Linked DNA regions of Homo sapiens: region 1 is reported to be linked to region 2. Evidence: microRNA targets listed by miRTarBase, many of them from high-throughput screens and not tested one by one. Region 2 holds a microRNA gene; the other region holds the end of a gene's coding sequence.
Evidence for each region. The annotated mature microRNA hsa-miR-4722-5p reads GGCAGGAGGGCUGUGCCAGGUUG and lies in region 2 at 1,545-1,567, opposite strand. An mRNA with a match to its seed (bases 2 to 7 or 8) in the 3' UTR can be bound and repressed. Matches are read on the target gene's strand: a 7mer-m8 pairs with bases 2 to 8, a 7mer-A1 pairs with bases 2 to 7 and ends in A, and an 8mer does both.

Region 1 (3,119 bases), not on the chromosome of region 2:
GGCACCTGGCATCCCACAGCCTTGGCTCTGGCTGGGGGTTGGAGCCAGGCAGGTTCACTTCCCCCTGTTTGAACTGAACGTGGCCACGGTGGCTAATGTGGTTCTGATGTGGGAGAGAGAGGGCAAGATGCTCTCCAAGAACTAATCCAAAAATGGGCATTTGCCTTTTGTTTCTTTTAGGGATGCGGAAAGAAAGCGGAAAGTAAAGCAGCTTTTTAACAGCCTGGCTACACAGGAAGGCGAATGGAAGGCTCTGAAGAGGAAAAAGTTCAAAAAATAAATTACATTTTATAAATAAGGCAAGGAACTGGACATTACCTCACATCTGCAATTCCAACCCTCTGGGAGGCCAAGGCAGGAAGATTGCTTCAGCCCAGGAGTTCGAGACCAGCCTGGGCAACACAGGAAGACCCCGTCTCTACCAAAAAAACATAAAAATTAGCCAAGTGTGGTGGCACGCACCTGTAGTCCCAACTACTCGGGAGGCTGAAGCAGGAGGACTGCTTGAGCTGAGTCCAAGGTTACAGTGAGCCGTGATTGAGCCACTGCACTCCAGCCTCGGCCACAGTGCAAGACTGTGTCGCTTAAAAAAAAATTTTTTTTTTTGAGACGGAGTTTTGCTCTTGTTGCCCAGGCTGGAGTGCAATGGCACAACCTCCACCTCCTGGGTTCAAGCGATTCTCCTGCCTCAGCCTCCCGAGTAGCTGGGATTACAGACATGTGCCACCACGCCCAGCTAATTTTGTATTTTTAGTAGAGACGGGGTTTCTCCATGTTGGTCAGGCTGGTCTCGAATTCCCGACCTCAGGTAATCCACCTGCCTTGGCCCCCCAATTATAGGTGTGAGCCACAGCACCCAGCCAAAAAAGTAATTTTTTTTAGAGTAATAATGCTATAATGTTGGTGTGATTCCAACCTCCAGCTCCCCCCACCCGCTGCCTGCGGTTTTGTTTCTGTTAAAACGTCACCTGATGAAATAGAATGAATCCTGAAATGCACCTCTGGGATCGGGAATGGTCTGTGTGTTATCAGCTGCGACTGGTTCACTGCGTCTGGACAAGCCTCATGGGGACTGGGGATTCTGGCCAGTGTAATTTCTGTCAACCACGGACGTTTGCCTTCATGTGTAGAATTTACTGTTGTTATGCAAATTATATTTTCAATTATAAATGAAACAAGTTTGCAGATATTTTAGAAATCAGAGAAGGGAAACATCACCCACAGTCCCTCTGCTGGAACAGCCACAGTTGGCCTTGTCCTACTTACGTCCTTCAGTGGATGCTTCTGGGTGCTGGGGTTCTCCATTCAGGACACTGCACTCTCGGAGGTGGGAGGAGACTGGGTTGCGTCTGTGCCGACCTGGGATGCAGTTTCAGGTCAGAATCAGAAGATGTGCAAGTTACGCATGACACAGCTTTTTAAAGTGCTTTTCCCCTGCACTAATCAAGAGGGAGGTCAGCCCTCAGGTGTGCTGGACCCGGGAGGGACTGTGAGCTGTAAGAAGTAACGAGCCCCTTGAACTTCACAAGCTGGCCAGGGAGCCATATCCCGAATGCCACTGCCACTTCCTCGTGGTGCAAGGCTTGTTGGGACCTGCCACCTTGCTGAGGGAGGTGCTGAAGTAGGTGGTTTCCCTGTTCCAATGCGGTATGCGGTCTTGCAGGCCGAGGCATTCCCCAGGGGATGACGGAGCCCCCGCTGGGCTACAAGCCAGGGCAAACACTGAACTTGTGTCCTTAGCCGGCATCCCAGGAAAGAAGGCCGGGGTCAAGTTCACACCTCATGAGATCACAGTGACCAGCCCTGCCCAGGCTGCCCTGGTACGTGCCTGAAGCATCGCGGAGGTCACATCTAGCCACGGTGACCGTGGTGAGATGTAAGGATTAACCAGACTACGACTGGGGAGGTGAGGAAGGTGACAAGGACCCAGTTCCAGCTTCTAACGGGGTGTGGGATCTTTGAGCAAGGAAGAAGATGCTAGGGAGAATGAGTCTGGCTTTGTTCTTGTTGGGAGGTGTTCAAGCCATGGCTGGACCAGAGCATGAGCCATCCTCAGTGTGAGAGGCAGTTACTGCCGCGGTTGGGCTGCCTGGTAGGCCTGGAGCTCAAAATGAGTCAGTCTCTCTCTGGAAAGCGCAAGACAGAGACAGCGCTGGTGGCAGCTGGGCTGAAGCCAGCAGCTTGGAGATGAGGCTCAGGCCCTGACGGGGGAAATCTTACCCAGCCTCCCCAGATGGCTCAGAGACAGGTCTGGCAGGTGCACGGATCCACAAATCTAGAAGAGTCTGGGGTTGTCACATCCACCAACTAGGCTGGCTGTCTATATACACTTTGTCACTGTGTAGGCCCAGGATTTCACCCATCTACAAATTTTCTCTGCCACACGGCTACTGCCACTTTAATTCACCAAGCCAAGCCTTTGCACTCAGGACCCTGGCCCAACCCTCTTTGGCCAAGCAAAGAGGAAACGAGAACAGGACAGAAAAAAAAGTGGGACCGGACCAGGCACCTGGCTGTCCATTGAGGCCTTGCTATGCGATCCAGGACGGAAGGTGCCGGCAGCAAGCTCATACACTCTAGCTGCGTGTCATGTCATTGAAGAGGGCGCGTGATCCAGCTGGAAGGGTGGATAAAAGTGTAACTGCCCAGTGGGTTCACCTTCCCTGTTACCTAGACAGCCAATTTATCAAGAAAGGGCATTTGCAACAGAGAAAAGGTAATTCACGCAGAGCTAGCTGTGTGGGAGACTGGAGTTTTATTATTACTCGGTCTCCCTGAGCATCTGGGGTTTGGAGTTTTTAAAGATAAGCTGGTGGGTGGGGGGCAGCCAGTGAGTCAGAAGTACCCATTGGTCAGGTCAGAGATGAAATCACAGGGAGTCGAAGCTGTTTTCGCACTGAGTCAGTTCCTGGGTGCCACAACATCAGATGAGCCTGGGTGGTGCCAGGTGACCCACCAAGTGCTGATCTTAGGCTTTACGATGGTGATGTTATCGCCAGGAGCAGTTTGGGGAGGGTCAGAATCCTGTAGCCTCCCGCTGCGTGACTCTTCAACCGTAGTTTCTAATCTTGTGGCTAATCTGTTGGTCCCACAAAAGCAGGCTAATCCCCAGGAAAGGT
Region 2 (3,242 bases):
GCATGGGGCGGGAGGGGGACCTGTCCTTACCCCACACTGCACGGCATTGAGGTGCCAAGGTGGGCACACAGCCAGCTCTGCTCCCGCAGGGAGGACCCCCAAGCCTGCATTGAGGAGCAGCTGTGCTACAGCTGCCGCGTGAACATGAAGGACTTGGTGAGTACGTGCCCACCTGTCCTGGGCCGGGCTTGGGGACGCGGGAAGGCCGTCACCTCGTGGGTGGCTTGAGGGGGTGCTGGCAGGTTTCTTGGCCCCTCGACACCGGCCTCTGTTGCAGCCCTCACTGGACCCCCTGCCGCCGTACATCCTGGCTGAGGCCCAGCTCCGCACACAGAGGTACTGGGGCCCACACTGCCGTGGCGCGTGGGTAAGGGGCCTCGGGGCTGGTGCCCACTGCAGCTTTCTCTCTAGGGCCTGGGGCTTGCAGGAGATCCGGGACTGTCTGATTGAGGACAGTGACGACGAGGCGGGCCAGAGCTGAGCGTGAGGACGTGCTTGCCGGGACAGCAGGCAGTGGCCACCTGGTACACCACACTGGAGCCGGAAGGCAAGGACGGGGGACTGGCCTCTGATTGTCCATTTGTATAAATAAAACATTTTTTAATTAAAAAAAAAACTCTACAGTACACGTGGGGGACGGCAGCGCCACGCAGGCCGTGGGGACGCAGTGTCCTTCTCTGACAGCAGCATCAGGGCTCAGGCAGGCCGGGAGGATGCATCACAGCTGGCGGCCTTGGACGGGGCAGTGGCTCCCCCGGCCTGAGGAGTGCCGCCCCTTGTGGCCACGCTGCCCAGCAGGCCGGCTCCTTCCCTCTCGGGCGCCAGCAGCAGCTCCTACTCCTTCTCACGAGTCCACTTGATCATGGTCTCCGGTGAGCGGTAGAGGAAGATGAGCTTGGCGTACAACTCCTCCTCCAGCTCCAGCTCCCGAGTCTCCCGCACCAGGAAGATGTCCTGGCAGAGCTTGAGGATGCGGTCCACGCACGGCAGCTCCTCGAACATAATGGAGTGCGAGATCTCGCTGAAGAATCCGCGCACGAACTTGCCGATGACCAGCACGATGGACACGTACAGCCCCATGATGCTGCGGGGGAAGCTGGTGAGTCCTGGGGCCGCCCGGAGCCCCCCGAGCTGCGGGGTGCCCCCCCAGCCACTCACTCACCCGTAGCCAGCCAGGAAGCCGAGGCTCGGTGGGCTGACCTTGTCACTGAAAATGACCATGGGCAGCAGGTTGCAGTCGGTCCGGCACTCCTGCAGCTCGATGACCCACCATTCGAGGAAGCCGGTGGCCCCCGCACCCTGCTCCCTCCGCAGCTGGATACGCACGCCGAGGTAGTCGGCCTCCTCATCTGGGATGGAGGGAGAAGATCGTTGAGGCCGCAGGTCACCCCTCTCTAGCCTCCCCCAACCCCCACGCCCATACTCACTGGGCTGCAGCTGCTTCACAGGGTTGGCTTCGGGCCCGTTGGGGGCACGGATGTACTTGGGGAAGAGATTAGGGATGACCCTGCAGGGAGGTGCTGGCAGGTCAGGCCTGGCCCAGCCAACCTGGCACAGCCCTCCTGCCCACCACCCGGGCCCTTCACTCACACAGACTGGTCCGAGGTGCCCTCGAGCAGGCTGGCCAGCTGCCGCCGTGCAGTGCTGTTGGGGGCCAGGGCCAGCATGTGCTTCTCGTTGGCATACTCCACAGTGCCTCCCTTCGCCAGGTCCCTGGGGGTGGGAACACAGCGTGACCCACTGTAGTGGGTCCACCCACCCAGGCACTGCCCCAAGTCCAGGACGAACCTCTGGAAGTTCCAGGTGAAGCGCAGGGTGATGTCGGCCGTGCCGTTGTAGAGCTCCCGCTTCATCTGGGCACGGCTGGGGGGACTGATGCGCCACAGCGCCCCGGAGCTGCCCTCAATCTGCGCCGTGACGATGTCCTCAGGGCTGTACTGGCTGATGAACTGCATGGCCAGCTGGGTACAAGTGACACCCTCAGTGACTGCAGCCGCCTCCCCACACCAGCTTTCACAGGGCAGAGGCCACTTACCGGCTGGGGGTCAAACTGCCGGGACAGCTCCTCATAGGCCTGGGCCGTGAAGGGGATGATGGACGGCTGCTGGGCGCTCATGGTGAACAGCGGCTGGGGCAGGCACGGGGACACGGGGCCACGAAGATGAGCGTGGAGGAGCGGCTGGGGGTGGTGCACCACCTTGGCCAGAACCCCCAGGGGATGGGAATGGACAGGCGGACCCACACATGCTCACCTCATAGCCGCCCAGCTTCAGGGTGACGGTGACATCGATGGGCTGGTTGACAACCCCAACCACGGAGCGCACCAGCGACATGAAGAGCAGTGGGAACCAGATGATGGCGATGAGGAAGAGGATGATGAGGCCACCCATGCCGTACTTGACGATCTTCTTCTTCTTCTGCCCTTTGGGCTGCGGGTATTTCTGGAGGGGAACGACACAGGTCATACGCTCAGCTCTGCCCTTCCTGCGGGTCACACAACCGCATTCTCCAGCTCACCCAGCAGCCCAGAAAAGCCCCAGCCTGACCTCAGTATGGCACAGCGGTAGTAATGGTGGGCAGACACAGGCCAGTGGAGTAGAACTAAGAGTCCAGTTGGAACCCTCATGTTCAGGGGTCGTTGATCTTAGACAAGGGAGCTGTGACCGTTCAGTGGGAACGGACAACCTTTTTCAACACGGTGCAGGCACCGCCCCAGGCAGGAGAATGAAACGCAACTCCTGCCTCATACCATGTGCCAAAATTTACCTCAAAGTGGATCAAAGAGCGAAACTTCAGAGCTAAAACTATAGAACTTTTAGAAGAAAACGGGCAAATCTTCATGAACCTGGATTTGGCGAAGGAAACAAAGTAAACCAGATATTACCAAAATAAATACTTTGTGCTTCCAAAGACACCAAGAAAATTTAAGAGACAGTCCATAGAATTGGAGAAATTTTCTGCAAATTTTAATTGATAAGGTTCTAGCAACCAGAGAATACAGAGAATTCTTCCAATTCAGTCATTTCTAGCCAATGTATCTGCAGAAAAACAGAAAAAACTCTAATAAAAAACAACCCAACTGCTGGGTGTGGCGGCTCACACTTGTCATCCCAGCACTTTGAGGTCAGGAGTTTGAGACGAACCTGGCCAAAAATACAAAAGACTAGCCAGGCCTGGTGGTGCACACCTGTAGTCCCAGCTACTCGGGAGGCTGAGGTGGGAGAATCGCTTGAACCTGGGAG

Region 1: the mRNA of NOP14 is a reported target of hsa-miR-4722-5p. Seed matches in the 3' UTR shown: 7mer-m8 at 681-687.

Annotation. Positions count from the first base shown.
Region 1 is chr4:2,935,992-2,939,110 of GRCh38, reverse strand. NOP14 (NOP14 nucleolar protein) reads left to right here. Exons shown (of 18, transcript NM_001291978.2): 18 at 181-1,175. The coding sequence ends at 280. NOP14-AS1 (NOP14 antisense RNA 1) reads right to left here. Exons shown (of 4, transcript NR_015453.2): 1 at 969-3,119; 2 at 319-418. Among named protein-coding and RNA genes, the nearest start is that of NOP14-AS1, 2.0 kb to the right of the region's middle. RefSeq lists enhancers at 1,317-1,736, 2,207-2,446, 2,249-3,119.
Region 2 is chr16:88,714,771-88,718,012 of GRCh38, forward strand. MIR4722 (microRNA 4722) reads right to left here and starts at 1,567; the gene lies at 1,508-1,567. CTU2 (cytosolic thiouridylase subunit 2) reads left to right here. Exons shown (of 15, transcript NM_001012759.3): 13 at 90-156; 14 at 278-336; 15 at 412-626. The coding sequence ends at 481. PIEZO1 (piezo type mechanosensitive ion channel component 1 (Er blood group)) reads right to left here. Exons shown (of 51, transcript NM_001142864.4): 45 at 2,253-2,441; 46 at 2,036-2,128; 47 at 1,789-1,961; 48 at 1,591-1,713; 49 at 1,428-1,507; 50 at 1,163-1,349; 51 at 568-1,084. The coding sequence ends at 835.